Regions from separate parts of the Homo sapiens genome. Here regions 1, 2 and 4 are each linked to region 3. The links come from fine-mapping of genetic effects on gene expression. A gene starts in region 3. Each other region holds a variant in brackets. All regions are shown on one strand. Distances are from middle to middle.

Region 1 (8,000 bases), 200 kb after region 3:
CGGGTCCCATGCCCACAGAGCCCAGCAAGCTAAAATCCATTGGCTTGAAATCCTTGCTGCTAGTGCAGCAGTCTGAGAATGACCTGGGATGCTGGAGCTTGGCGGGGGGAGGGCGTCTGCCATTGCCAAGGCTTGAGTAGGTGGTTTTATGCTCACAGTGTAAACCAAGTTGCCGGGAAGCTCAAACTGGGCGGAGCCTACCGCAGCTCAGCAAGGCTGACTGCTTCTCTAGATTCCAGCTCTGTGGATGGGGCATATCTGATCAAAAGGCAGCAGCCTCATTCAGGGACTTATAGATAAAACCCTCATCTTCCTGGGACAGAGCCCCTGGGGGAAGGGGCAGCTGTGGGCACAGCTTCTGCAGACTTAAACATTCCCCTGCCTGACAGCTCTGAAGAGAGCAGTGGTTCTCCCAGCATGGTGTTCAAGCTCGAATAACGGGCAGACTGCATCCTCAAGTGGGTCCCTGACCCTCGTGTAGCCTGACTGGGAGACACCTCCCAGTAGGGGCCAACAGACACCTCTTACAGGAGAGCTCTGGCTGGCATCTGGCAGGTGCCCCTCTGGGACGAAGCTTCCAGAGGAAGGATCAGGCAGCAATACTTGCTGTTTTGCAGCCTCCGCTGGTGATACCTAGGCACACAGGGTCTGGACTGGACGTCCAGCAAACTCCAACAGATCTGCAGCTGAGGAGCCTGTTAGAAGGAAAACTAACAGACAGAAAGGAATAGCATCAACATCAACAAAAAGGACATCCACACCAAAACCTCATCTGTAAGTCACCAACATCAAAGACCAAAGATAGATAAAACCACAAAATGGGGAGAAACCAGAGCAGAAAGGCTGCAAATTCCAAAAACCAGAACACATCTTCTCCTCTAAAGGATCACAACTCCTCACCAGCAAGGGAACAAAATTAGACTGAGAATGACTTTGACGAGTTGACAGAAGTAGGCTTCAGAAGATGAGTAATAACAAACTTCTCCGAGCTAAAGGAGCATGTTCTAACCCACTGCAAGGAAGCTAAAAACCTTGAAAAAAGGTTAGACGAGTGACTAACTAGAATAACCAGTGTAGAGAAGAACATAAATGACCATCATGTTGAAGCTGCCAGGCTTCAAATGCATTACTCTGAGCAAGTGACTTAACCTCTCTGGGCCTCAATTTTCTGATGCAGCTGAAAAACACAGCATGAGAAATTCATGAAGCATACACAAGCTTCAGCAGCAGATTTGATCAAGCGGAAGAAAGTATATCCGTGATTGAAGATCAAACTAATGAAATAAAACGAGAAGACAAGATTAGAGAAAAAGGAGTAAAAAAAATGAACAAAGCCTCCAAGAAATAGGGGATTATGTGAAAAGACCAAATCTGTGTTTGATTGGTGTATCTGAAAGTGACGAGGAGAGTGGAACCAAGTTAGAAAACGCTTTTCAGGATATTATCGAGGAGAACTTCCCAAACATAGCAAGGCAGGCCAACATTCAATTTCAGGAAGTACAGAGAACACCACAAAGATATTCCTCGAGATGAGCAACCCCAAGACACATAATCGATAGATTCACCAAAGTTGAAATGAAGGAAAAAATGTTAAGGACAGCCAGAGAGAAAGGTCGGGTTACCCACAAAGGGAAGCCCATCAGACTAACAGCGGATCTCTTAGCAGAAACCCTACAGCCAGAAGAGAGTGGGGGGCCAATATTCAACATTCTTAAAGAAAAGAATTTTCAACTCAGAATTTCATATCCAGCCAAACTATGCTTCTTAAGTGAAGGAGAAATAAAATCCTTTACAGACAAGCAAATGCTGAGAGATTTTGTCACCACCAGGCCTGCCTTACAAGAGCTCCTGAAGGAAGCACTAAACATGGAAAGGAACAACTGGTACCAGCCACTGCAAAAACATGCCAAATTGTTAAGATGCTATGAAGAAACTGCATCAAGTAACGGGCAAAATAACCAGCTAACATCATAATGACAGGATCAAATTCACATATAACAATATTAACCTTAAATGTAAATGGGCTAAAGGCTCCAGTTGAAAGATTCAGACTGGTAAATTGGATAAAGAGTCAAGACCCATTGGTGTGCTGTATTCAGGAGACCCATCTCACACGCAGAGATGCACATAGGCTCAAAATAAAGGGATGGAGGAAGATCTACCAAGCAAATGGAAAGCAAAAAAAAAAAAAGCAGGTGTTGCTATTCTAGTCTCTGATACAACAGACTTTAAACCAACAAAGATCGAAAGAGACAAAGAAGGCCATTACATAATGGTAAAGGGATCAATTCAACAAGAAGAGCTAACTATCCTAAATATATATGCACCCAATACAGGAGCACCCAGATTCATAAAGCAAGTTCTTAGAGACCTACAAAGAGACTTAGACTCCCACACAATAATAATGGGAGACTTTAACACTCCACTGTCAACATTAGACAGATCAACGAGACAGAAAATTAACAGGGATAGCCAGGACTTGAACTGAGCTCTGGACCAAGCGGACCTAATAGACATCTACAGAACTCTCCACCCCAAATCAAAGGAATAAACATTCTTCTCAGCACCACATCACACTTATTCTAAAATTGACCACATAATTCGAAGTAAAACACTCCTCAGCAAAAGTAAAAGAACAGAAATCACAACAAACTGTCTCTCAGACCACACTGCAATCAAACTAGAACTCAGGATTAAGAAACTCACTCTAAACCGCTCAACTACATGGAAACTGAACAACCTGCTCCTGAATGACTACTGGGTAAATAACAAAATGAAGGCAGAAATAAAGATGTTCTTTGAAACCAATGAGAACAAAGACACAACATACCAGAATCTCTGGGACACATTTAAAGCAGTGTGTAGAGGGGAATTTATAGTACTAAATGCCCACAAGAGAAAGCAGGAAAGATCAAAATCAACACCCTAACATCACAATTAAAAGAACTAGAGAAGCAAGAGCACACAGATTCAAAAGCTAGCAGAAGACAAGAAATGACTATGATCAGAGCAGAACTGAAGGAGATAGAGACACAAAAAAACCCTTTAAAAAAAATCAGTGAATCCAGGAGCT[G/GT]TTTTTTTTTTTAAAAGATCAACAAAATAGACTGCTAGCAAGACTAATAAGAAAGAGAGAAGAATCAAATAGATGCAATAAAAAATGACAAAGGGGATATCACCACTGATCCCATACAAATACAGACTACCATCAGAGAATGCTATAAAGACCTCTACATAAATAAACTAGAAAATCTAGAAGAAATGTATAAATTCCTGGACACATACACCCTCCCAAGACTAAACCAGGAAGAAGTCGAATCTCTGAATAGACCAATAACAGGTTCTGAAATTGAGGCAATAATTAATAGCCTACTCACCAAAAAAAGCCCAGGACCAGATGTATTCACAGCCGAATTCTACCAGAGGTACAAAGAGGAGCTGGTACCATTCCTTCTGAAACTACCCAATCAATAGAAAAAGAGAATCCTCCCTAACTCCTTTTATGAGGCCAGCATCATCCTGATACCAAAGCCTGGCAGAAATGCAACAAAAAAAGAGAATTTTAGGCTAATATCCCTGGTGAACATTGATGCAAAAATCCTCAATAAAATACTGGCAAACCGAATCCAGCAGCACATCAAAAATGCAAGGCTGGTTCAACATGTGCAAATTAATAAACATAATCCATCACAGAAACAGAACCAACCACAAAAACCACATGATTATCTCAATGGATGCAGAAAAGGCCTTCGACAAAATTCAACAGCCCTTCATGCTAAAAACTCTCAATAAACTAGGTATTGATGGAACGTATCTCATAATAATAAGAGCTGTTTATGACAAACCCACAGCCAATATCATACTGAATGGGCAAAAGCTGGAAGCATTCCCTTTGAAAAACGGCACAAGACAAGGATGCTCTCTCTCACCACTCCTATTCAACACAGTATTGGAAGTTCTGGCCAGGACAATCAGGCAAGAGAAAGAAAGGGTATTCAGTTAGGAAAAGAGGAAATCAAATGGTCTCTGTTGGCAGGTGAGATGATTGTATATTTAGAAAACCCCATCGTCTCAGCCCAAAATCTCCTTAAGCTGATAAGCAACTTCAGCAAAGTCTCAGGATACAAAATCAATGTGCAAAAATCACAGGCATTCCTATACACCAGTAACAGTCCAACAGAGAGCCAAATCATGAGTGATCTCCCATGCACTTCCAGTTGCTACAAAGAGAATAAAATACCTAGGAATCCAACTTACAAGGGATGTGAAGGACCTCTTCAAGGAGAACTACAAACCACTGCTCAACGAAATAAAAGAGGTCACAAATGGCAGAACATTCCATGCTCATGGATAGGAAGAATCAATATCGTGAAAATGGCCATACTGCCCAAAATAATTTATAGATTCAGTGCTATCCTCATCAAGCTGCCGCTGACTTTCTTCACAGAATTGGAAAAAACTACTTTAAATTTCATACGGAACCAAGAAGAGCCCGCATAGCCAAGACAATCCTAAGCAAAAAGAGCAAAGCTGGAGGTGTCAGGCTGCCTGACTTCAAAACAGTAATCAAAACAGCATGGTACTGGTACCAAAACAGATATATAGACCAATGCAACAGAACAGAGGCCTCAGAAATAACACCACACATCTACAACCATCTGGTCTTTGACAAGCCTGACAAAAACAAGCAATGGGGAAAGCATTCCCTATTTAATAAGTGTGCTGGGAAAACTGGCTAGTCATATGTAGAAAGCTGAAACTGGATCCCTTCCTTACGCCTTATACAAAAATTAACTCAAGATGGACTAAAGACTTAAATGTAAGACCTAAAACCATAAAAACGCTAGAAGAAAACCTGGGCAGTACCATTCAGGACATTGGCATGGGCAAAGACTTCATGACTATAACACCAAAAGCAATGGCAACAAAAGCTAAAATAGACAAATGGAATCTAATTAAACTGAGGAGCTTCTGCACAGCAGAAGAAACTATCATGAGAGTGAACAGGCAACCTACCGAATGGGAGAAAATTTTTGCAATTTATCCATCTGACAAAGGGCTAATATCCAGAATCTACAAAGAACTTAAACAAATTTACAAGAAAAAAACAACCCCATCAAAAAGTGGGCAAAGGATATGAACAGACACTTCTCAAAAGAGGACATTTATACAACCAACAAACATGAAAAAATGCTCATCATCACTGGTCATCAGAGAAATGCGAATCAAAACCACAACGAGTTACCATCGCACACCAGTTAGAATGGCGATCATGAAAAAGTCAGGAAACAACAGATGCTGGAGAGGATGTGGAGAAATAGGTACGCTGTTACACTGTTGGTGGGAGTGTAAATTCAACCATTGTAGAAGACAGTTTGGCAATTCCTCAAGGATCTAGAACTAGAAATACCATTTGACCCAAGCAATTCCACTTACTGGTATATACTGAAAGGATTGTAAATCATGCTACTATAAAGACACATGCACACATATGTTTATTGCGGCACCATAGCAAAGACTTGGAACCGACCTAATGTCCATCAATAATAGACTGGATAAAGAAAATGTGGCATATGTACACCATGGAATACTATGCAGCCACAAAAAGGATGAGTTCATGTCCTTTGCAGGGTCATGGATGAAGGTGGAAACCATCATTCTCAGCAAACTATCACAAGGACAGAAAACCAAACAGCGCATGTTCTCACTCATAAGTGGGAGTTGAACAGTGAGAACACACGGACACAGGGAGGAGAACATCACACACCAGGGCTTGTCGGGGGTGTGGGCTGGGAGAGGGATAGCATTAGGAGAAATACCTAATGTAAATGATGAATTGATGGGTGCAGCAAACCAACATGGCTCATATATACCTATATAACAAACCTGCACATTGTGTACATGTACCCCAGAACTTAAAGTACATATATAAAAAAAGAAAAAGGTGATTTATGTTACTAATATTCTTTGTAAGTATGACGCTTAAAAGTAGATTGGTTTCTTAAGCTATCTTCTTGTTTATGTTATTAATTTATTTAATGTATTTTTTCTTGTCACTGTGTTATGTATATATTCTAGGAGATAAAATAAAAATGTGTGAATTGGTCTGACGCTAATACGCACAGTTGTTAGAGAACAATAATGACAACTCATGAGCGACTTCAAGCAGAATGTAATTAAGGGTGAGATGAAGAGATACAGGCTTTTAATGCTACAAGAATCTACAGAAGGTGCTGCTCATTGTGGGCTTATGAGTATAGGGAAGACTTCAGGGAGGAGCTTGTGATTTAGCTAGACTTAGAATGATGGCAAGTTAGAGAGGAGAGATGGCATTCAGATGAAGGGCATGGTTAAGCAGAGATGCAGTTGTGGGAATAAACATAGAATGGAAGGAACAGACATTAAAAGGATGAGATTGAAAATCCGTGCCTAGCAGACCTGGCCTATAGATAGTGATTAATAAAGGATATTTTCCATTATTCATATCGGAAGAGAGATGTATCATTGGCATGGGGTCAAATTACAGAGGTTTTATAAAACTAGGCAGTAATTTCCTCTGAGCACATTACAAAAGTGGCCCCTTACAACACTTTCAATGTTAAAATATTGACACAATAATTAAGACCCTGATAAAGATATGCATAGGTAAGATTTATCAAGTAGAAGGTGGTGTCTTTACATGCTTGCCTAAGTCTAGGAGCAGAGGTGCCTTTGATATTAGATCTGGCTGTGCCTCTTACAGCTAGAGGAAATAGCAGGTTCAGGAAAACTTTTTTTTAGGGTAAGTTTTAAGTGTTTGTTCGCTAAGAAACACGACTTTGAGAAGAGTAAGTGATTGTTAATTAAAGCAAGAGAATTATTGATGTATCACAGTCATGAGGAATATTGGAAGGAATATGGTCCATACAGGTAGATAAAGGAATATTATTGGACTGACACAAAATTATCAGTGTGGACCCTCTCTGGATATAACTTGACCATCTGAGCTTTTAGAATAATTTCTTCAAACATGATGAGGGGTTTGTTTATATAATATTTTTCCAGGGTCATGTGTTTTCATTTTAAGTTATATTTTTGTAGTAGAAATTTCAGGTATTTTGACAGAAAGGATGGGAACATATTTTCAGAAAGTTAAAGCGTATGAGTAGTTATGAAGAGAGAATAATGACAGTAATAAATATAAAACCATAAGAGCTTATATAGTCATGTGGAGTTTCCAATTTAGCATATGAATAACCTAAACAGGTAAACATTATTGTATGGTAGAGAGAGCATTAGCTTTAAACAAAGCGGATTTGATTTTGTATCCAAATGTAGTTATCAGTTATCTAGTTATCAGTTGTGTGAAACTGGGCACGTTATTTAACTTTACTGGGTCTCAGATTCTTTGCCTATAAATGAAGATATTATCTTCCTCCTGGATGTTCCAAGGATTTAGTGAGATAATACTTTTTGAGCATTGTGTATAATACCTGGCAGTTGGTGGGTGGTAAAAAAATAGTTGTCACCTTATTACTCATCTCACTGTGAATGTAGAGTATAACATAAATGAGCACACATGCGCATACACACACACACCCCTTTATACATTTTCAGGCTACTAATTATTAATCTTCTATCCTAAAATTGCTAAGCTGCTCTACAGGGGAGGCAATACTTTAGGGTTAAGCAGGAATTCTGCCTGACTTTGAATACTGGTTCTGACACTAGCTGTGTGACCTTGGGCAAGTTATTTAAATCCTGTGTGCATCAATTTGTTTATATATAAAATGGGGAAAGTAGTTTTACCTATCTCATAGAGTTATTTAGAAGACTAAATGAATACATTTTTAAAGTGCTTAGAAGAGTCTTTGATTACTGGTTTGCTTGCTTTGCTTAGTTCATATATTGGTCATTATTAATATTTATTGCATTAACAGAATAATAAATAGATTTTGTAAAAAATAAGGTCAAATGAAAATACATTGGTTGATCTTAGAATTTCAAGGTAATTTAAATGTTAT
Region 2 (8,000 bases), 350 kb after region 3:
TTATCATTTTACATGTATAAGTTAATCGAGTATACCAGAAGTTGTTTTCCTTTTTTCCAAGTCATCTATTGTGTGGATAATAGATGATTTGCTATAATTTCTAAGCTTAATTTTTTCCCATTAAAAAAATCTAAGTCTTCTTCCAAATTATGTATGTTTTTAGCATCAAAAGATGTTTTGATGGAAGTGTGGAAGTTATATGGCATGCTTTGATAGAATAGAGATTCATTATTTTGTTACAAATGTTTATTGAACAACTACAGAATGAATGAAGTTCCCAAGAAAATATCATTTGAAGTTCTTTTATTTGAAATATTTATTTACATAAACAAAAATCTGTAGCTCAGAGTCAATGCAGAGTAATACTTATTAATGATTGTGAGATCTTTGAAAATCCTGGTGTCATAGCAAAATTCAAAAGGGGTTTGCTTTGTATCTTTTTCAGTTAATAAAGGAGAGAACATGGATCAATAAAAGAGAGAATATGGATTCAATTGTTGTTATATGAATGTTGTAATAAGTTAGCTGTGCACTTTATGAAACTTGGAAAGCCTGGATTAAGTCTACTGATTTCACTGAGAAACAAATAAACAAACATCAACCAGTCCAAATCAAACCAGGAAACTTGGAACACATTGAGTGAACATGGGCTTTGGAATTGGACAGGCATGGATTTGAATCCCAATTCTGCTCTTTATTAACTGGGTGACACTGGACAAGGTACTTAGCATCACTGAACCACAGTTTCTTAGTCTATAAAGATAATATGAGTCTTACAGCATTATTGGAAGGCAGCTATAATCCTGGTGTAACACCAATACACCTACAGGATTATTGTCAGAATTAGAAAAAATACGCAAAGCTTATAACATGGTGTCTGGCCTGCAGTAGCTGTTGTTATAACCAGGGTCCAGGCAAACCCTGGAACATGGGAACTACAGAGGAAGCTGGAAAACCTTTGAGCAAAGATTTGGTAAGAGCATAGGCTTTATTTACTTCCATACATTCTAACTTATTTGGCAATTCCTGATTGTAGAGTGTGGGGTTCACCTCCTTTGGGGCTTACATGGGTTTGCCTTTGAGTGGAGAATTGAGCTGAGTGCATATACCCCTCAGATTACATTGACTCTTTTGAGGCAACAGGCTGCAGAGGGTCTCAGAATAGCTGGTGTTGCTATCACAGTCAGTGAGCAAATATAGACTAGTATCTGATAATCTCTCATGTTGAGTGTGATGAGCAAAATGCTAGGTCGTTTTATTCAAGTATCTGCATAAGAAGTTATGTGCAGAAGACTGGTTGGTCTAGTCCATGCCTTTGCCCGCTAAATCAGTATCATTTAAACAAAATTTTAATGTTTTATTCTCTTCTTGTTTATTTGTTTCTAAAATAAATATAGACATGTCTATAAATTTGTATATCTTCCCTTTTAAATATTAGAATGCTATATATTTGCTTTTTTACCCTTTTATTTTGAAATAATTATAGATTCACAGAAAAGTACAAAAATAGCACAGGGAGGTCCCTGTGTACGCTTTATCCAGCTTTCCCCATTGTTATATCTTACATCAGTTTAGGAAAATGTCAAAACCAGAAAATTGGCATTAGTACAATGGGTAAATACAGTTTTGTGACATTTTTTCATGTGTATATTTGTATAGACACTACCACAATCAAGATACAGAAAGGTACCAACAAAATTCTCTCTCAAGTAACCAGTTTATGGACATATCACCCCCTGTCCTGCCATCATCCCTAACTCATAGCAGCCACTAAATAGTTTCCATTTCTATAAGTTTGTCATTTCAATAATGTAATATAAATGCAGTCATACAGAATGTGACTTTTTGAGTTGGCTTTTTCACTCAGTGTAATGCTCTTGAGATCCATCCAAGTTTTTGCATATATCAATAGTTTATTCCTTTATTTGTCAATATTGATTAATAGTTTATTGGTGACTTGTTTTCGTGGTATGGATGTATCACAGTTTGTTTAGCCATTCATTCACTGAAGGATATTTTGTTGTTTCTGGATTTCGGCTATTACATATAAAGTTGCATTGAACATTTTTATGCAAGTTTCTGTTTGGGCACAAGTTTTCATTTTTCTAGGATAAGTACTGAGGAATGTGATTGCCTAGCTATATGTAAGTTACATTTAATTTTTAAAAAACTGTCAAACTGTTTCCAGAATGACTGCCATTTTTTTCATTCTCACTATGAATCTTTAAGAGATCCAGTTTCTCTGCTTCCTCGCCAGCACTTGGTGTTATCCCACTTTTTTTCTGTTAGCCATTCTGATAGGTGTAGTGATATCTTACTATGGTTTTAAGTTTGCATTTCCCTAGTGCTTAGTGATTTTTGAAAATATCTTTATGTGCCTGTTTGCTATTTGTATATTCTCTTTTGATAAAATTTGCGATTTGTATATTCTCTTTCGTAAAATGTATCTTAGTGCCTTTTGCTCATTTTCTAATTGAATTGTCTTTTTACTGTTGAGTTTTGAGAGTTGTTTATATATTCTAGAAACTATCAGATGTGTGGTTTGCAAATATTTTTTCTCTGTCATTTACTCTTTGTGACAGAATTTTTTTTCATGGCAATAATTTTTAATGAATAGTTTCTGATGAAGTTCAGTTTATTGTTTTTTTCTTTCATTGATCACACTTTTGATTTTGTGTCTAAGAACTCTTTACCAAGCTCGAGATCCCAAAGATTTTTTCATATATTTTCTTCTAAAAGTTTCATAGCTTTATGTTTTATATTTAAATCTATGATCAATTTTGAGTTAGTTTTGGTATAAGGAGTGTTTCAGGCTGCAGTAATCAGAATTCTAAGATGACCCCTTTGTCCTTTCCCATGTTGTACATCTGCTATAAAATTAGTCTTCTCCCCTCGATGGTGGGTGATACCAGTAAATGTAATGGATACCACTCCTGTGATTAGGTTACTCATCAAAAGAGATTGTCCTGGATGGGCCTGACCTAATCAGGTGACTCCTTTCAAGAAGCCAAGGTGTCTGAGAGATGTTCTTCTGAGGGACTGGAGGAAAGCAAACAGCCATGTTGAAAGAGGGCGGTGGGGGCATTTGGCAAGGAGCTGAGTATGCCCTTTAGGG[G/T]CAGAGAGTGATCCTGGGTGACAGCCAGCAAGAAAATGGGGACTTCTTTTTCACAATGGCAAGTAAGTGAATTCTGCCAACTTGAATGAGCTTGCAAGAGGACTCTGCTTCTCAGGTGAGATCACAGCTCCAGATGATACCTTGATTTCAGCCTGCTGAGACACCCGAGCAGAGGACCCCACTAACCTATGCTGGACTCCTGGCCCATGGAAATTAAGAGATAATAAATTTGTGTTGTTCTAAGCCTTTAAGTTTCTGGTAATTTGTTATGCAGCATGCAATACAGATTTCAATACCCTAGAGTGAGGTGCTGCTTTTATGCTTCTTTGTAGATGTAGATTTTGATTATTGGAGCTTACATCTGGGTGTGAGGGAAAGAAGTAGGACATACATGCTGTGAGACACAGTGAATAGATAGACTGTCTTCTGGGTTTGGAAGCTTCCTTAGGCTCTGCTCTGCTTTCCTGATTCTAGGGTCCTTACTCATGGTTTTTGTTTCTGGGGACAAACCCAGCTGCTGCCACCCTGCACAGCCCTAAGTACGGGAAGAGTCAACTAGCTCAGTTGCTTCCAGTGTACATCTACAGTTAGTCACCTGATGCCACAGGGGAGTAGTCTCCAAACTTTTTCATAGCACACTCTTATTTTTAAGTCAGCTTCCCTAACATATATACATTCATTCCTTAATAACTTATATATGTGTTGTTATTAAATATGCTCCATAACATAGAAAAAGAAAATTTTAAAGGTATGATTTTTAAAGGTTTTAAGAGAAACATTAAAAAGTAATTATAAAAACTATTGAGAAAATGAAAAAGATCAGTGGTTGCCAGGAGTTAGAGGGGAGCGAGGGATGAATCTGCAGAACACAGGATTTTTAGAGCAGTGAGTCTATTTTGTGTGATACTAATAATAGTGAATACATGTCACTATACATTTGTAAAACCCATAGAATGTCCAACACCAATAGCCGTAATGTAAACTGTGGATTTTGGGTGATAGTGATGTGTCAGCATAGGTTCATTTTTGTTGCAATAAATGTACCACTTTGTAGGAGGGTATTGATATGAAAGAGGGTTTATGTGTATAGGGGCAGAGCATGTATGGGAACTCTCTGTACTTCATGCTCAACTTTTCTGTGAACCTAAAATTGCTCTAAAAATAGTCTATTTAAAAAGTAAATATACCATAAAATCTATCTGTGGACATCCTATAATTTTTTTTATTTTAACTCACTTTGTTGACTATAAATACATGCCATTAATTATACAAGATAATAAATTATACCTTATTTATAAAGTAAGAAATAACATATGTATTCTTTACTATAGTTTGGCACTGATGTCTTCACTTGGTCTATTTGTTAAACATTAATGTGTCCTGTAAGGTACGTTCAAGGAAGAGTGGAAGGCTTTTGCAATGTAGAGGGGCTGAAAGTGGCATCATTACTCATTTATTTACTTTTGTGTTTCAACATGAAAATATGTATGTAACTGTTAAGTGAATCTATATATTAAATTATTTTACATAGTACAGTCTTTATAATAGTTTATAATGAGATGAGAGACTTTAAAATCTTCTCTGTAAAGTTCACTGTTGTGACAGCATGCTTCAAAGTACTCTTGAACTTGTGTAAGAATTATGCAATTTTCTTTCAAAAAAGATGAGGGTTACAAATCTGTAGAACTTTTCTTTGATGGCAAGTGGCTAACAGAAACATTCTAGCTAGAAGATATTAAACACATACTCTGTCACTTCAAGGTAAAGTGACATTTGTAAAAAAATAAAAACTAACTGCTCTGAGTTTTGCAGAGAAAACATTGTAAAATAGTTGTTTGGAAATATTTCCAGAATTATGGACTTTTTTTCTCAAAATGATACAAAGCTATAAAATTCATATATATATATATATGTATATATATATATATATATACACACACACACACACATAAAAATTTCAGAAATGTAATTTTCTAGCCACAGTGTCTTTTGAACTTTTGTTACGAATGTAGAAAGTATTTAATATAAAAGGTTTTTGTTAAAGAATAATTGATTAATTCAGGGAAGTTGGAAATTTTCTAGGCAAAATTTAAATTACAACTTTTGTTTGATTGATAGGTAGTATTGAAACATGAATTCCCTGATTTAGTAAACACAACTGTATTAGGGCATTCTTGCATTGCTATAAAGAAATAACTGAGGTGGAGCCAAGATGGCTGAATAGGAACAGCTCCAGTCTACAGCTCCCAGCATGAGCAATGCAGAAGATAGGTGATTTCTGCATTTCCAACTGAGGTACCGGGTTCATCTCACTGGCGAGTGTTGGAAAGTGGGTGCAGGACAGTGGGTGCAGCGCACCGAGCATGAGCTGAAGCAGGGCAAGGCATCACCTCACCTGGGAAGCACAAGGGGTCAGGGAATTCCCTTTCCTAGTCAAAGAAAGGGGTGACGGACGGCACCTGGAAAATTGGGTCACTCCCACCCTAATACTGCACTTTTCCAACAGTCTTAGCAAATGGCACACCAGGAGATTATATCCTGTGCCTGGCTCAGAGGGTCCTACACCCACGGAGCCTCACTCATTGCAAGCACAGCAGTCTGAGATCAAACTGCAAGGCGGCAGCGAGCTGGGGGAGGGGCGCTCGCCATTGCCTAGGCTAGAGTAGGTAAACAAAGCAGCCGGGAAGCTCGAACTGGGTGGAGCCCACCGCAGCTCAAGGAAGCGTGCCTGCCTCTGTAGACTCCACCTCTGGGGGTTGAGCATTGCCAAACAAAAGGCAGCAGAATCCTCTGCAGACTTAAATGTCCCTGTCTGACAGCTTTGAAGAGAGTAGTGCTTCTCCCAGCACGGAGTTTGAGATCTGAGAACGGACAGACTGCCTCCTCAAGTGGGTCCCTGACCCCCGAGTAGCCTAACTGGGAGGCACCCCCCTAGTAGGGGCAGACTGACACCTCACATGGCCGGGTACTCCTCTGAGACAAAACTTCCAGAGGAATGATCAGGCGGCAACCTTTGCTGTTCACCAATATCCGCTGTTCTGCAGCCTCCACTGCTGATACCCAGGCAAACAGGATCTGGAGTAGACCTCCAGCAAACTCCAACAGACCTTCAGCTGAGGGTCCTGACTGTTAGAAGGAAAACTAACAGAAAGGACATCCACACCAAAACCCCATCTGTACGTCACCATCATCAAAGACCAAAGGTAGATAAAACCACAAAGATGGCGAAAAACAGAGCAGAAAAACTGGAAACTCTAAAAATCAGAGTGCCTCTCCTCCTCCAAAGGAACTCGGCTCCTCACCAGCAACGGAAGAAAGCTGGATGGAGAATGACTTTGACAAGTTGAGAGAAGAAGGCTTCAGACGATCAAACTACTCCGAGCTAAAGGAGGAAGTTCGAACCCATGGCAAAGAAGTTAAAAACCTTGACAAAAGATTAGACGAATGCTAACTAGAATAACCAATGCAGAGGAGTCCTTAATGGACCTTATGGAGCTGAAAACCATGGCACGAGAGGTACGTGACGAATGCATAAGCCTCAGTAGCCGATTTGATCAACTGGAAGAAAGGGTATCAGTGATGGAAGATCAAATGAATGAAATGAAGTGAGAAGAGAAGTTTAGAGAAAACAGAATGAAAAGAAACAAACAAAGCCTCCAAGAAATATGGGACTATGTGAAAAGACCAAATCTACATCTGATTGGTGTACCTGAAAGTGACGGGCAGAATGGAACCAAGTTGGAAAACACTCTTCAGGATATTATACAGGAGAACCTCCCCAATCTAGCAAGACAGGCCAACATTCAAATTCAGGAAATATAGAGAATGCCACAAAGATACTCCTCGAGAAGAGCAACTCCAAGACACATAATTGTCAGATTCACCAAAGTTGAAATGAAGGAAAAAATGTTAAGGGCAGCCAGAGAGAAAGGTCGGGTTGCCCACAAAGGGAAGCCCATCAGACTAACAGTGGATCTCTCGGCAGAAACTCTACAAGCCAGAAGACAGTGGGGGCTAATATTCAACATTCTTAAAAGAATTTTCAACCCAGAATTTCTTATCCAGCCAAACTAAGCTTCATAAGTGAAGGAGAAATAAAATCCTTTACACACAAGCAAATGCTGAGAGATTTTGTCACCACCAGGCCTGCCCTAAAAGAGCTCCTGAAGGAAGCACTAAACATGGAAAGGGACAACCAGTACCAGCCACTGCAAAAACATGCCAAATTGTAAAGACCATCGAGGCTAGGAAAAACTGCATCAACTAACGAGCAAAATAACCAGCTAACATCATAATGTCAGGATCAAATTCACACATAACAATATTAACCTTAAATGTAAATGGGCTAAATGCTCCAATTAAAAGACACAGACTGGCAAATTGGATAAAGAGTCAAGACCCATCAGTGTGCTGTATTCAGGAAAGCCATCTCACGTGCAGAGACACACATAGGCTCAAAATAAAAGGATGGAGGAAGATCTACCAAGCAAATGGAAAACAAAAAAAGGCAGGGGTTGCAATCCTAGTCTCTGATAAAACAGACTTTAAACCAACAAAGATCAAAAGAGACAAAGAAGGCCATTACATAATGGTAAAGGGATCAATTCAACAAGAAGAGCTAACTATCCTAAATATATATGCACCCAATACAGGAGCACTCAGATTCATAAAGCAAGTCCTTAGAGACCTACAAAGAGACTTAGACTCCCACACAATAATAATGGGAGACTTTAACACCCCACTGTCAACATTAGACAGATCAACGAGACAGAAAGTTAACAAAGATATCCAGGAATTGAACTCAGCTCTGCACCAAGCAGACCTAATAGACATCTACAGAACTCTCCACCCCAAATCAACAGAATATACATTCTTCTCAGCACCA
Region 3 (8,268 bases):
GGAGGTTACAGAAGGGTCAAAAGAATGTGGTTCATCTGGTGCTTTAAAACTCTGAGGCTCACATACGTACAATCAGTTTATTACACTCCCCTAGTTTCATAAAGATACAGGTGTTCTTAGACCTGCTTTTGATTTTTTTCTATTTTTTTGATCCTCTCTTCTTATATATGCCAGTTTAAAAATGCCCTAGATGTTAATGGTCAACTTCTAAAAATGTCAAGAATTTGCACAGAAGGGGAAGGTGAGTGACTTGCATTGGGCCACAAGGAAGGTCCTAATTATGAGTGTCTCAATAGGAAGCAATAAGGAAACAGACAAATGAAGTTGCTTAGTACTAAGTAGGCACAGAAAGAAGACATGAGGTTTAGAGAAAAAGTAGGAATCCTGCATGCAGGAAGTGAGAGTTTGAGAGAGAAAGACGCAAACAAAATTTTTAGGGTTTTTCTTGCCTGGGTGTCTAGGAGATTAGAAGTTTTATAAACAGGTGGGAGAGTAGTTTAGAGGATTCCCACAAGAAGTTAGAAAGATAATTAAAATTTAGTTATATTAAATTAAGTATTTCCAGAAATTAGAGTGGCACTGTTCAAACCGGGGTTAAAAATTCAAAACTAGAGCTCAGGAGAGGTCAGAGATGGATATAAAGAGTTGAATATTGGGGATATGGAGTTCATACTTGCAGGAATGGATGACATCACTGAGGACGCTTATCTGGTACAAACGATGGGAAGGTTGAGGGCAGAAACTGAGAAAATATCACTTTGAGGGGCAGGAAGGGAAGAATGGTTTCCTGAGCAGCAGCAGAAAGTTCAGAGAGTTGGAGAAACAATGGAGTATAGAGTCTCACCTTTGCTGGAGAGGCATCTGAGGATCAACATGTGTCAGCAAAGTCAAGGGGTCTCAGATTTGGCAATGAGGTCACTACTGACTTTGGAAGCTATTGGTAGAGTGGTGTGAATGAATGAATCTAATCATATCTCAAAAGGATTGGTAGAAAGAAGAGAGAGAAATGAAGTGATGTTGAGGCCAAAAGATAAGCGGGTAGGAGAACATCTCTTTATATAGCTTTTTTCAAGTAGTAGTAGCATGTTAAGCAAATAAAAGACAACAGAGAATCTCCACGCATTTTGAAATGGTCTGATTTATTGTGTAATTTTTATATTTTTTCTGCTTAAAACCCTTCATTAGCTTCATTGCTTGATAAACTCCTAAGTATGATGTAGAAATTCCTCTGTGATCTGGGTTCTGCATATTTCTCTAGCCTCATCGCTCACACCTCCTTTGCACAGACAGCTTTTTCCAGCTTTTCAAATGTCTGGTGCTGGTTCTTATGCTGGTGTTTGCAGCTTCCGTGTCTTCCTTCTAGTTCCTTGTTAGCTTCATAAATCTTTAACGGTCTTCTTAAACTAAGCTCAAAGTTCTTTTCTATGAATCATTTCTGGGAGCTCAGGGTTGATATCAATATTCCCCTGTATTTCTATCATCTAGCTCCATGTTGGGTACATAGTCTGTATTCTGTAAATGCTGAATGAACAAATAAATGAAAACGGGTCTTCACATCACATCCATTTTTCATTTCAAAAACATACAATATAGTACATAGCATTTATTCTTGCGATACAATATTCACTTTTGTGACTTTGTTAAAACACAAATAATTTTTTTTTTTTTTTTTTTGAGACGGAGTCGCGCTCTGTCGCCCAGGCTGGAGTGCAGTGACGCAATCTCGGCTCACTGCAAGCTCCACCACCCGGGTTCACGCCATTCTCCTGCCTCAGCCTCCCGAGTAGCTGGGACTACAGGCGCCCGCCACCACGCCCAGCTAATTTTTTTTGTATTTTTAGTAGAGACAGGGTTTCACCGTGTCAGCCAGGATGGTCTCGGTCCCCTGACCTCATGATCCGCCCACCTCGGCCTCCCAAAGTGCTGGGATTACAGACGTGAGCCACCGCGCCCGGCCAACACAAATGAAATTTTAAGTAGTTCCAGCTACTCAGGAGGCTGAGGCAGGAGGATGGCTTGAGTCCTGAAGGTCTAGGCTGCAGCGAGGCGTGATTGTGCCGCTGTACTCTAGCCTGGGCAACAGAGAACAACCCTGTTTCAAAAAAAAAAAAAAAAAAAAGAAAAAGAAAAAAATAAAATTTAAAAATATTTTTTAAAGCTTGTAACATAAAAGTTCTAATCTCATTAGTCAGTTGTAATTTTCCATTTCATTTCTAAACTTTAGAGTGGGCTATTTTTTCCCTTTATTTCCTCTGGAGCAATTGTCCTCTTTATGGCTCTAGTAAAAAGAATCAGGGACAGGCCTCCGTTTTAGATGTAAATGACTAAAATCAAACCAATTAAGGTTTCAGTGCTACAAGAATCAAGGAGGTTTTAATCTCAATTTGTGTTTGCATTTATGACCGTTGGCTCTCCCATGGGAGAGAGAAAAGACGGCCCCTACACCTGGTTTCAGGTTGATTACAATCAACAAGGACCCAGTTTAGTATAGAAGGCTCGTTTTGCATTAAACACCTTTTTGTGCAGAGGAGGTGGTGGTGGTGAAGATAAAAATCTTTGACCAAATCCTGTCAATTTGCATTGTTCTCTGGAAGAATAGGCTTTCAAAAGTTAAGGAACAAAAGAGGAGTTGGTTTTCCAGTCTCCCTTAGGCGGCAGCAGATTGTGAAGCAGCCACCGGGAGGAACCAAAGTATAAATTATCAATAAGAGGACGGTGTGTGTGTGTGTGTGTGTGTGTGTGTGTGTGTGTGTGTGTGTGTCAGAGAAAAGTGAGAGAAGCGAGGAAAGAGATAGGGAACACACATGCTAAGGCTCCGAGGCGTTTTCCACGATGTGCCTGGTTACGTAATGTTGATAATGAAACGCACTGCAAGCAGCATCAATGCATTCTTCCGACCCTGCTCACCACTCCCAGCTGGGATACAATGGGGACGGGAAGAGGGGACAGGATGCCCTGTGCAGGCAGAGAGCTGTCCAGACAGAGGTAAACCAGGCAGTTGGGCAGAACCCGAGCCCAGAGAATTTCTCCCCAGGCCCCGGGACCAGCCCACCGTTGCTGTGGCTCTAAAGATGGGCAGAAGAACCAGTTTCAAAAAGCAGGATCTGGGATCCGACCTCTTAGGTTTTTATTCAGCAGGCAGGGAAAAGGGGTTAGAAGCTGGAAATCTGCATTTCCACTCGGCTCTGGCGACTGAGACAGGAACGCGGACACCTCACGCTGAAAAGCCACAGCAGCGCGTGGGCAGGGCGCACCCCCGCGCGGGGACGCGGAGCTCCTGGAGCGAGAGCGCGTGCGGTCGCGAGCCCGCCGCTCCCCAGCAACGGCGCATGCGCCCGTTCGTCCCTCAGCGAAGGCGCGCTGCTTGGCGGGCGGGCTCTTCCAATCCGAGCCAGCGTTCTCGGAGTACGTATCCAGGAGCTGCAAGCTGAGGGCTGCGGGAGGCGGGAGGAAAAAGTGGGGCCGGGCCTGAGTTGGGCTGACCTGTGAAAGTCTGGGAAGGTCTGCGAGAGAAGCGGAGTGTTTTCAGCTCCGGAAGTGGCAGTTGTAAACTTCACCTCCCGGGGGCTCTTCCCCTTCTGTACCCCTTTGCTGTTTGTCCCCCTCCTCCCGGGTCCTGGAGTCCGTCGTGTTCCAACAGTTTTTGCTCTTATTCCCGTGGGCTGCCTGGGCCTCCTTTCACCCGTGAGACTTGGAGCGGCCCCTGGGGTCTTGGGTGTGCAGCACGGATCACGCGAGACCCCTGAGGTAACCGCACGGTGTGGGGGCTTCGAGGCGGACGACTTGGGAGGGAGGTGTTGAGAGGGTTGTAGGGGCCCCTGAGTGAGTTTGGGGCGGCCCTGGGGCTGTTGGCGTAGGCTTTGGGGCACGCCTCCAGCTCCCTGGGCTGGGTCTCCCCGCCCACCTGGAGGAAGATCTCCGTGGAGCATCCTAGCCAGAGATCGCTGAGGCTGTACCAGAGCGCCGGATGGGGACCAGAGGGGAGGCAGAGGACCGGGATTTGGAGCTTCTTAGGGTTACTGCTGCGGAGCGCTTTCGTTCCCGAGAATCAGTAAGCCCCTCGAGGATAGGGACCACGTCTTTCAGCCCGCTCTCCCCTTTTTAAATGCCGGCCACACACTAGACACTCTACAGATGTTTGATAAACGGGAATGAGTTGTGCTAGACTGTCACCTGCAGCTTCTACCTACCCTCCAGGACTCTGAGAGACTTAGAATCTGAGTCAGCTGTGCGTTTTCCCGAAGCTGTAAATTTTCTGCAGAAATGGAGCCGACTTTTTGAATTTTTTTATTCCATTATGATATTGATCCTAAGAAAATACATATTTCATGTATACATTTTAGGTAAATGAGATAAATACGTCTTTATTTTGTTTATTAGAGTTGGTGTCCAGCTCTTTTGAATACATGACATACCGATGTTTTATGGTTTTCATAATATTGGAGAAAAGAACATACGATTTTGTCACTTTTTTTTTTTTTTGAGATGGAGTCTTGCTCTGTCACCCAGGCTGGAGTGCAGTGGCGCGATCTCGGCTCACTGCAAGCTCCGCCTCCCGGGTTCACGCCATTCTCCTGTCTCAGCCTCCCCAGCAGCCGGGACAACCGGCGCACGCCGCCACGCCCGGCTAATTTTTTTGTATTTTTAGTGGAGACGGGGTTTCACTGTGTTAGCCAGGATGGTCTCGATCTCCTGACATCGTGATCCGCCCGCCTCGGCCTCCCAAAGTGCTGGGATTACAGGCGTGAGCCACTGCGCCCGGCATGTCACTTATTTTATTTAACTGTTAGTTCCTACTCTCAACAAAACAGTGGTAGAGCAGAAGATGAACATGGTTTTTCATAAAATGCAGAGGAAACAAAGGCAGTGCAACCTGCTAAGAGGAAAGATGAAGGGCATAGTCTTAGTTTGTAGCTTTCTGTGTTAGTCTTGGGGCTCAGCCATTTATGAGCTGCGTCCCCACAGGCAAACCACCTAACCTTCCTAGGCGTTAGGTTCTTTATCTGTCAGATAAGGAGGAAGGACTTAGTCTCTAAAGTCTCATTTGATTCTAAAACGTTTTGGTTGTCTCAGTCCCTTGGTCTTGGTCTTGTTTTGATGTAAGAACCAAACTTCCCCTTTAAAGGTTGATTATGTACCTATGCTGAGAAACACTTCCAACACAGGTGTGGTTACTAATGAAGACAGCACTGCGTAGTGAAAGAGGATGGACTTAGCCAGATGTGGATTTGAATTCTCATTTTCCGGCTGAATATTTTTACACAAATTATTCAACATCTCCAAGCCTCAGTTTTCTTATCTGTGAAATGTGCATAATCTCATAGAGATGTTGGGATTAAATGAGATCAGGAATGCTGATCTCAGTATCTGGCATATAGTAAGTGGCTCAATAATAGGAATTTCTATTTTTTCATCCACCCATCCCTCGTTTTTCCTCTGATCTGTGCAGACACACTGAAAGATGAGTGCATTTGGGATGACCAACTGAAGGACTCAGATGTAAGGTAGAAAAATTTTTTACCAGTAGTGGCTCCGAAATCTAAAGTAGATTCGCCTTTCTGGCTGGCACCTCCTCTCAGGATGTCGGGATCACTGATCCCTTGGCCTCAATTACCCTTTTATCTATTTTTAAAAATGCTTCTCATTGATGAATGATACACATAATATCCCATCATCTATTTTAGTAGGAATGGTGAGATTAGTTCAACTCCACTATCAAAAAAAGATTAATCTATTAATACATTAACATAAAAAGCTAATTTGAACCTTGCCTTTCTTTATCTATTACTGCTACAGGATGGCCTGGTTTTGGTCCAGAACTGTGAAGGTGCTATCTGGATTGAGAATCGACTGAAGGTCTGAGTAATCTTTTGTTGAGAAGGCCATGGCTTGTCAGTTTCGATACGGGGAAAAATGATATTTTTAAGAAATCTCCAGCAAAGAGCAGAAATGCTTCCCTGATAAGTGAGGTCTTACATGCTTCCCTGACTGGGATGAACTGTGTCTTGAGGGCCAATAGCAAGGCACACAGCAGAGCTCTGGAGTCAGCTAACTTGGGTGTAAATCCTGACCCTGTCACTAGAGATGTGAGAGATGTGACTTTAGTCAAGTGACTGAGTATCTATTTTTATTTCTTTTATTATTATACTTTAAGTTATAGAGTACATGTGCACAATGTGCAGGTTTGTTACATATGCATACATGTGCCATGTTGGTGTGCTGCACCTGTTAACTCGTCATTTACATTAAGTATATCTCCTAATGCTATACCTCCCACCTTCCCCCACTCTCTGCCAGGCCCCGGTGTGTGATGTTCCCCACCCTGTGTCCAAGTATTCTCGTTGTTCAATTCCTACCTAAGAGTGAGAACATGCGGTGTTTGGTTTTCTGTCCTTGCGATATTTTGCTCAGAATGATGGTTTCTAGCTTTATCCATCTCCCTACAAAGGACATGAACTCATCCTTTTTTATGGCTACATAGTATTCCATGGTGTATATGTGCCACATTTTCTTAATCCAGTCTATCATTGATGGACATTTGGGTTGGTTCCAAGTGTTTGCTATGGTGAATGGTGCCGCAATAAACATATGTGTGCATGTGTCTTTATAGCAGCATGATTTACAGTTTCTGCCGAGAGGTCCGCTGTTAGTCTGATGGGCTTCCCTTTGTGGGTAACCTGACCTTTCTCTCTGGCTGCCAGTGATGGGATGGCTGGGTCAAATGGTATTTCTAGTTCTAGATCCTTGAGGAGTCGCCATACTGTCTTCCACAATGGTTGAACTAGTTTACAGTCCCACCAACGGTGTAAAAGTGTTCCTATTTCTCCACATCCTCTCTAGCACCTGTTGTTTCCTGACTTTTTAATGATCGCCATTCTAACTGGTGTGAGATGGTATCTCATTGTGGTTTTGATTTGCATTTCTCTGATGGCCAGTGATGATGAGTATTTTTTCATGTGTCTGTTGGCTGCATAAATATATTCTTTTGAGAAATGTCTGTTCATATCCTTTGCCCACTTTTTGATGGGGTTGTTTGATTTTTTCTTGTAAATTTGTTTAAGTTCTTTGTAGATTCTGGATATTAGCCCTTTGTCAGATGGGTAGATTGTAAAAATTTTCTCCCATTCTGTAGGTTGCCTGTTCACTCTGATGGTAGTTTCTTTTGCTGTGCAGAAGCTCTTTAGTTTAATTAGATCTCATTTGTCAATTTTGGCTTTTGTTGCCATTGCTTTTGGTGTTTTAGTCATGAAGTCCTTGCCCATGCCTATGTCCTGAATGGTATTGCCTAGATTTTCTTCTAGGGTTTTTATGGTTTTAGGTCTAACATTTAAGTCGTTAATCCATCTTGACTTAATTTTTGTGTAAGGTATAAGGAAGGGTTCCAGTTTCAGCTTTCTGCATATGGCTAGCCAGTTTTCCCAACACCATTTATTAAATAGGGAATCCTTTCCCCATTGCTTGTTTTTGTCAGGTTTGTCAAAGATCAGATGGTTGTAGATGTGTGGTATTATTTCTGAGGGCTCTATTCTGTTCCATTGGTCTATATATCTGTTTTGTTACCAGTACCATGCTGTTTTGGTGACTGTAGCCTTGTAGTATAGTTTGAAGTCAGGTAGTGTGATGCCTCCAGCTTTGTTCTTTTTGCTTAGGATTGTCTTGGCAATGTGGGCTCTTTTTTGGTTCCATATGAATTTTAAAGTAGTTTTTTCCAATTCTGTGAAGAAAGTCATTGGTAGCTTGATGGGGATGGCACTGAATCTATAAATTACCTTGGGGAGTATGGCCATTTTCACAATATTAATTCTTCCTATCCATGAGCATGGAATGTTCTTCCATTTGTTTGTGTCCTCTTTTATTTTGTTGAGCAGTGGTTTGTAGTTCTCCTTGAAGAGGTCCTTCACTTCCTTTGTAAGTTGGATTCCTAGGTATTTTACTCTCTTTGTAGCAATTGGGAATGGGAATTCACTCATGATTTGGCTTTCTGTCTGTTATTGGTGTATAAGAATGCTTGTGATTTTTGCACATTGATTTTGTATCCTGAGACTTTGCTGAAGTTGCTTATCAGCTTAAGGAGATTTTGTGCTGAGACGATGGGGTTTTCTAAATATACAATCATGTCACCTGCAAACAAGGACAATTTGACTTCCTCTTTTCCTCATTGAATACCCTTTATTTCTTTCTCCTGCCTGATTGCCCTGGCCAGAAGTTCCAACACTATGTTGAATAGGAGTGGTGAGAGGGGGCATCCCTGTCTTGTGCCAGTTTTCA
Region 4 (8,000 bases), 55 kb after region 3:
TAGTGATTGAAGCATGGGGGAGTTTGTGACGGTATGGGAAGTGTAGCTTGAAAATAATTCCATGAACTATAGAAAGAGGAGGAAGAGTAGGGAGGCAGTGAAGAAAGTTATCAGACCACCCTTAGTAGGCATGGTCTGATAGGCCTTAAGACAATCCAGGGATTGGGGTGCAACATATCAAAAGCTGACCCAGTAAGTATGATTGTGATGTAGTGACAACTCGGAGGAAGTTACGTGAAAAGAAAGTGTTTTTAGGAATATCCACGTAACAGAATAGTATGCAAATACACACAGAAATAAGATATGAACATCAACAGATGGATGCAAAATATTAGGAATATAATTTTATTTTGTTTTATTATTTTATATTTTTGAGACAAGGTCTCACTCTGTTGCCCATGTTGGAGTGCAGCGGGACTATCACAGCTCACTGCAGCCTTTGCCTACCTCAGCCTCCTTTGTATCTGGGACCATAAGCATGTGCCACGAAGCCTGGTTAATTTTTAAAATTTTTGTAGAGATGGGGGTCTTCCTTTGTTGCCTAGGCTGGTCTTGAATTCCTGGGCTCAAGTGATCCTTCTGCCTCAGTCTCCCAAAGTATTGAGATTACAGGAGTGAGCCACCACACCTGGCTTATAATTTTATTTATGTAACACATTAACATATGTTGACATGTATGACAGGTAAACACCTTAAGGAAGTTTACCTTAAATAATCAAGGGCAGCAAGGAGCATTTCTTTTCTTCTGGAAAACTATGTACTGGTATCCTATTAACAAATGGCATAGAAAAGGACTCTGACACTGATAACTTTGTTATAAAAATGCCCCTAATTTGGCCGGGCAGAGTGGCTCATGCTTGTAATCCCAGCACTTTGGGAGGCTGAGGCGGGCAGATCATGAGGTCAGGAGATTGAGACCATCCTGGCCAACACTGTGAAACCCTGTCTCTACTAAAAAAAAAAAAAAAAAAAAAATTAGCCGGGAGTAGTGGCACGCACCTGTAATCCCAGCTACTCAGGAGGCTGAGGCAGGAGAATCGCTTGAACCCAGGAGGTGGAGGTTGCAGTGAGCCAAGGTCGCACCACTGCACTCCAGCCTGGGCGACAGAGCGAGACTCTGTCAAAAAAAAAAAAAGAAAAAAAAAAGTCCCTAATTTAGGGAAATTTAAAAGCAAGAAAGTAAGGGTCTTGCCCCTTTCACCTCTGATTTCGCTCCTCATGTCAGGATATAGAAGCATTACGTTTTTACATAAATAAAATGATACACCTCAATAATATTTTGCCTCCATCTTTTGATGTTCATACCTTATTCTTTTAGTATTTGCATGGCATTCTGTCATGTGGATTTTCCTAACATACTGTAGCCTTTCCCTTACCTGTGGGGCATATGTTACATGACACCAGTGGATGCCTGAAACTGCAGATATGCTGTGTTTTTTTCTATACACACACATACCTATGATAACGTTTAATTTATAAATTAGGCGCAGTAAGAGATTAACGATGTAACTAATAATAGAACCATCATAACAAGATACTATAATAAAAGTAATGTGAATGTGGTCTTTCTCCCACTCTAAATATCTTATTGTACTGTATTCACTTATTTTTGGACCTAGGTTGACTCAGGGTAACTGAAAGGGAAGATGAAACCGCAGATAAGAGGGAATATTGTATTTCAGTAATCTCTTATTGATGCACATTTTATTTCTTTCAAAATTTTTAGCTCTAATTAATGATTCACTAACATTCTTGTCCATATCTTTGAGCAGTCATACAAATGATTCTTCGTGTAAATGCCTAGAAATATAATTGTTTCATTTTCAAGCTTATGGATTCACAATTATGATAAATGTTATACAAAGCACCAGTTTATGCTCTATAGCAACAAACACTTTGTAATTGTAGAACTTTGCTAGCCTTGGGGACTTAGAGAGGAGGAACTTGTTCTGGGTCTTTCAGGAGATAATAATGTAATAGATTAAGGTTGTAGTTAGCTATATTGATATATTTTATAAGCTAGAAAAGAGGAGTACATTTAACTCTGATACTTTTCTAACTAGTGTAATTCTTCAGAATTGGAACGGAACTGTATTTTGGATTCTGAGAAATGTTGTTTATATGAGTATATATAAAGAATTATACTTTTTGGGCTACGTTTCTGGAAGATGTGGAAAGAAAGCAAGTTTATTTTCTAACAGCCAAATGTAGTTTCCTGTGATATTAAATGTCAGTTCAAAAACAAGCCTCATTTTAAAATATTTTAAGTTCAACAGCCCCCTCTAGTGGAAAAAAGAAGAACTTCCCTCAATTTCCAGTGTCCTTAATATGATTTTATTTCACACACACAGACACACATAATAAAGATGCAGGTAGCTTTTGGTGTGATTGGAAAATATGTTCTGTAACAAAAATTTTAAAGTTACATTTATTTGGGATGAAGGCAAGTTTTTCTGTAAATTGCATGAGGTATTTTTGTAGTTTTTTTGGATTTTCTTGAGTGTTACATTGCATCTCAGGATTGGATGATATTGATAAAGCCATAAACTTAAAGCAAATATTTGAACATACAACCCCCCCAGGGATTTATATATACTCAATGCCCAATATAACCCAGCAATACCATTAATGTAACAAATGCTACCTAGATCATGTTAGTGTGTGTTATGTTTACTGGAACTGGAAACAAACAGTAAATTGTTATATCATTGAAGACAATTCTGAGTCACTTCCCCATCCTGCCACAACTTCAGCCCCAAAAGAATAACTGCCATTCTGAAGTTGGTGTTTAATTTTCTGTCTGTATACATTGACAGTATATTGTATTATTTTAGTATTTTTGTTTTAGGATATATATTAGAATATCATACAGGATGCTTCTTTGTCAAACTTATATTTTTCACTTTTTTTTTTCTTTTAGACAGGGTCTCACTCTGTCACCCAGGCTGGAGTGCAGTGGCGCGATCTTGGTTCACTGCAACCTCTGCCTCCTGGGCTCAAGCAATCCTCCCACCTCAGCCTCCTGAGTAGCTGAGACCACAGGCACGTGTCACCACACCTGGCTAATTTTTGCATTTTTTAGTAGAGACGGGGTTTCGCCATGTTGGCCAATCTATTCTTGAACTCCTGAGCTCCAGTGATCCACCCGCCTTGGCCTATCAAAGTGCTGGTATTGCAAGTGTGAGCCACCATGCCTGGCCTGCTTGTATTTTTGAGGTTTGTTAAAGTTAATAAAATAGCTTCTGTTCATTCAGTTTAACTGCTGTATAATATTTTATCTTGTGCGTGTGCCATAATTTACTCATTACCTGACTGCCTTGTCCATTTTCTGTTGTTTATAACAGAATATATGAAGCTGGTTAATTTATAAAGAAAAAGAATTTATTCTTGCAGTTCTGGAGGCTGAGACATCTAATGTCAAGGGACTGCATCTGACGATGGCCTTCTTGCTGATGGGAACTCTGCAGAGGTCCAAGGCTGCACAGGGCATTGCATGCTGGTGGGCTGAGTGTGCCAGCTCAGGTCTCTCTTTCTCTTCTTGTAAAGCCACCAGTTCTACTGCCATGATAACCCATTAACCCATTAATCCATGATTGGATTAACCCATTCACAAGGGCAGAGCTGTCATGACCCAGTCCTCTCTTAAAGGCCCCACTTCTCAAAACTGTCACATGGGGGATTACATTTCAACATGAGTTTTGGAAGGGACACACATTCAAACCATAACACTGACATTGAGATTTAAGTTCTTTGCAAGTTTAAATTATTACAGACAGTGATTCCATGAACATCACATCTTTTTATGTGGGTATGTATTTAGTGCGTATAAAATATGTGCCAAATTGTTCTCTTAAGTGGGTGTAACAATTTCAAAGAAGAGTTTCTCTTCCTTTACAGCCTCTTGGTATTTTTCAGATTTAATTTCTTTTGAAATAGGATATGTGTGAAATTGTATCTCATTCTTGCTTAAATTTCCACTTCCTTGACATTGACCATGTTACGTTTATTGGCCATTCACATTTCTTTTTTGTGAAGTGCCAGCTTATATTTTTTGCCTTTTTTCTTTTGGATTTTTGGGTATATTTTTATTGATTAATAGGAACTTTTGGCTGGGGGTGGTGGCTCCTGCCTGTAATCCTAGCATTTTAGGAGTCTGAGGTGGGAGAATTGCTTGAGCCCAGGAGTTCGAGACCAGCCTGGGCAACAGAGACACTCTCTCTATGAAAAAAAAAAAAAAGTATATATATTAGCCAGGCGTAGTGGCATATACCTGTGATCCTGGCTACTAGGGAGGCTGAGGTGAGAGGATTGCTTTTGCCTGGGAGGTCAAGGCTGCATTGTCCTATGATCACAGCCCGGGCTACAGAGCAAGACCCTGTCTCAAAAAAAAAAAAAAAAAAAAAAAAAAAAGAGTGGTTTTTTTTT[A/T]AAAAATATATTTAGTAACTAACCCTTGGTTATGTATATTCCTTTTGCAAACATCTTTTTCTTCTTTGTAGAGACAGAGAGGCAATTTACATTATGTATGATGAACAGTTTAAAATTTTTTTTTTTTTTGGACACGGAGTCTCGCTCTGTCATCTAGGCTGGAGTGCAGTGGTGTGATCTTGGCTCACTGCAACCTCCGCCTCCCGGGTTCAAGCGATTCTCCTGCCTCAGCCTCCCGAGTAGCTGGGATTACAGGTGCCTGCCACCATGCCCAGCTAATTTTTTATTTTTTTTTATTTTTAGTAGAGACGGGGTTTCACCATGTTGGCCAGGCTGGTCTTGAACTCCTGACCTCAGGTGATCCACCCGCCTTGGCCTCCCAAAGTGCTGGGATTACAGGCGTGAACCACCGCACTTGGCCTAGTTTTAAATTTTAATGTAGTTGAATTTATCAGTATATTTTTTTATAGTTGTGATTGTTTTGTCTTAGATAACCCAAAGTCATAAAGATAATGCGTATATAGCATGAGATGGGATCTAATTTTGTTTTTCCAAATAGATAGCCAAGTGTCCCTGTACTAGTTATTCAATTGTCTGTTCTTTTACCGCATATTGATTTATAGTGTCATTTCCATCATACATCAAGTTCTTTTATATCTAAGATTTTGTTCTTGGGTACTCTGTTCTGTTTCACTTACATGTTTGTTTCTGCATCAGTACTAAATTGCTTTATTCATTATACCTTTAGAATAAGTCTTGATATCTGGTAGAGAACTTTCCTCTGTCTTTATTCTTAATATTTTTTAGGGGTGAGGGAGGGGTTATTCTTGGCTTTTTACTTCCCTATGTGAGTTTCAGGAATGGCTTATTGTATTCCATCAAGAGACCTTCCTGTAATTTTGATTAAAATTGGATTGCATTTATAGATCATTTTGACATAAAGTTGACATCCTTATAATGCTTATCTCTTCTATTTTCCATCTTTTTATATTTTTACTCTTATTTTCTGAGAGATTTTCTCAATTTTATATTGCAGCCTTTCTATTACATTTTATTTCATCTTTTGGGTTTTTAATTTCTAAGCTCATTCTTGTTATTTGATGATACCTTTCTTAGTATATTCTCCTTGTTTCATGTTTGTAATGTCTTAATTTAACTCTTTGAGGATATAAGTCATACTTATTTTGAAGGTGTTTCTCCCCCCACCCCTCCCTTGATGGTCTTGTCTTCTTTTCTTTTCTTTCTTCTTGTTTTTGAGACTGGATCTTGCTCTGCTGCAAAGGCTGGAAATGCAGTGGCTCGATCATGGCTCACTGCAGCTTAAACCTCCTGGGCTCGGCTGGGCGCGATGGCTCATGCCTGTAATCCCAGCACTTTGGGAGGCCAAGGCGGGTGGATCACCTGAGATCAGGAGTTCAAGACCAGCCTGGCCAACATGGTGAAACCCCATCTCAACTAAAAAAAAAAAAAAAAAAAAAAAAAAAAAAAAAAAAACTGGGCGTGGTGGTGGGTGCCTGTAATTCCAGCTACTTCGGGAGGCTGAGGCAGGAGAATCACTTGAACCTGGGAGGCGGAGGTTGCAGTGAACCGAGCTGGTGCCATTACACTCCAGCCTGGGTGACAAGAGTGAAACTCTGTCTAAAAAAAAAAACAAAAACCTCCTGGTCCCAAGCCATCTTCCCACCTCAGCCTCTCGAATACCTGGGACTACAGGTGTGCACGACCATACCTGGCTAATTTTTTCTGTTCTTTGTAGACACAGGGTCTCACTGTGTTGCCCAGTCTGGTCTTGAACTCCTGGACTCAAGTGGTCATCCCGCCTTGGCCTCCCAAAATCCTGGGATTACAGGTGTGAACCACTGTGCCCGGCCTGGTCTTTATTTTCTCTGAGTGTTTGGCTTCATTTTGTAGTAGCCTCTGAGTTTCACATGAGAAGTGATATATTTTGGATGTGTGTCTCTGCCCAAATCTCATATTGAAATGTAATCACCAGTGTTGGAAATAGGGCCTGGTGGGAGGAGATCATGGGGGCAGATTTCTCATGAATGGTTTAGCACCATTCCTCTTGGTACTATCCTCATAGTAGTGAATGAGCTCCACGAGATCTGGTCATTTAAAAGTGTGTAGCGCCTCCTTCCTCCTGCTCCTGATCTGGCCATGTGACGTGCCTGCTCCCCCTTCACCTTCTACCATGATTGTAAATTTCCTGAGGCCTCCCCAGAAGCCAAGTGATGCCAGCATCATGCTTCCTGTACAGCCTGCAGAACTGTTAGCCTATTAAACCTCTTTTCTTTATAAATTACCCATTCTCACATATTTCTTTATAGCCATGCAGGAACAGCCTAATACAAGAACCTTTCCGCAAATGTCCGGTGATTCTAGACTGTGTGTTTATATTTAAGAATGAGGCACTAAAAAGATGAGAAGAAGCTCTTTGGATGTGGAGCCCTTGCATTGAATTAGGGAACCTTACGATGTCTTTTTTCTTGGCCTGGTAGTTTCCCTAGAAAGAAATCTTTCCGTCTCCTCCTTATATTGCTATGAGTGTAGGAGTCAGTGCTCAGGGCGCTGTGAGGTCTAACTGCCCACTATGCAGATGTTGCTTAATCTCCTTATTTTTAATAAGGTGTCTTACCCCAACCCCCAGTTGTGTTTGCTTTTCATATCGTCAGAACCTCTTTTGATCAACCTCTAGTTTGTAAACTCCTTCCTTTTACCAGGATATGGAGGGGGATTTTTCAGGGAGGGAGCTGGCAGAGGCAACCCGAGAGTGTAAAGTACTGGTTATAGAGGCTTCCAACAATGCTCCTGTATTCATTTTTACTATATAGCTTGGCTTCAAGGTTAGCTGTTTTGCTAGGGTCTGGATGTTTGTGTCCCTCCTAAATTTGTATGTTGAAACCTAATTGCCATTGTGATGGTATTAGGAGGTGGGGTCTTCAGGAGATTATTAGGTCTTGATGGTGGAAACCTTAAGTAGAATTGGTGCCTTTATAAGGGACTGAAGAACCAGAGTTCTTGCCTTCCACCATGTTAGGACACAGATAGAAAGCATCCTCTATAAACTAGAAAGTAGGCTCTTGCCAGACATTGAATCTGCCAACACCTTGATCTTGTATTTCCCATCTTCCAGAACTGTGAGAAATACATTTCTGTTTTTTATAAACTGCCTAGTTTATGGTATATCTTGTTATGGCAGGCTGGATGGACTAAGACATTGTGCCTCCAAATTCTGAGCTTTTGTGGCTGTAAATCAGCTTGCTACTAGGCTTCTCTTTTTTTCCGCATTTAGAAAAGATGAAAAAGCTGAAACCTAAGTCATTATCACTTGTCAGTTTGCTTTCTGTCTTCCAAATTTGCTCCTGACATCTTTTGTTGGCTATCATTTTCTCCACCATTCATTGTTTCTGCCATTTGTTTTTATTTTTTACTTTCATTTAAGTGGTGTTTTAGGAGAGATGATTAGCTATGTTTAATCATATCTGTTTAGTGGTCCCCTCTTGGTGTTCTTTTTAACTTATGATCTTCTGATAGAACTGCAGTCTCACTTTTCATCTCATATTTGAATTCTGGTT

Alleles and levels. Alleles are on the strand shown, and positions count from the first base shown. SD is a standard deviation of normalised expression in the study named. Not every link is listed here.
For the expression in prefrontal cortex of the gene that starts at base 3,488 in region 3, GT is the low allele of the variant in region 1 and G is the other (moderate effect, 0.49 SD a copy in BrainSeq).
In carriers of allele T in region 4, the expression in iPS cells of the gene that starts at base 3,488 in region 3 tends to be higher than with A alone (large effect, 1.0 SD a copy in PhLiPS).

Evidence for each region. PIP is the estimated chance that this variant, and not a neighbour inherited with it, causes the effect.
Region 1: its variant is fine-mapped to the expression of CCDC171 in prefrontal cortex (BrainSeq, PIP 0.95). The same link has a PIP of 0.9 or more in fetal neocortex.
Region 2: its variant is fine-mapped to the expression of CCDC171 in tibial artery (GTEx, PIP 0.96).
Region 4: its variant is fine-mapped to the expression of CCDC171 in iPS cells (PhLiPS, PIP 0.95).

What each region holds. Positions count from the first base shown.
Region 1 is chr9:15,746,966-15,754,965 of GRCh38, forward strand. The region is part of intron 18 of CCDC171 (coiled-coil domain containing 171); the gene reads left to right. Among named protein-coding and RNA genes, the nearest start is that of CCDC171, 200 kb to the left of the region's middle. The variant G/GT (reference allele first, on the strand shown) is at 3,074.
Region 2 is chr9:15,897,235-15,905,234 of GRCh38, forward strand. The region is part of intron 24 of CCDC171 (coiled-coil domain containing 171); the gene reads left to right. Among named protein-coding and RNA genes, the nearest start is that of CCDC171, 350 kb to the left of the region's middle. The variant G/T (reference allele first, on the strand shown) is at 3,116.
Region 3 is chr9:15,549,556-15,557,823 of GRCh38, forward strand. It overlaps CCDC171 (coiled-coil domain containing 171), which reads left to right and starts at 3,488. Exons shown (of 26, transcript NM_173550.4): 1 at 3,488-3,747. RefSeq lists enhancers at 3,085-3,730, 3,626-3,795 and silencers at 3,186-3,245, 3,256-3,345.
Region 4 is chr9:15,604,563-15,612,562 of GRCh38, forward strand. The region is part of intron 6 of CCDC171 (coiled-coil domain containing 171); the gene reads left to right. Among named protein-coding and RNA genes, the nearest start is that of CCDC171, 56 kb to the left of the region's middle. The variant A/T (reference allele first, on the strand shown) is at 4,426.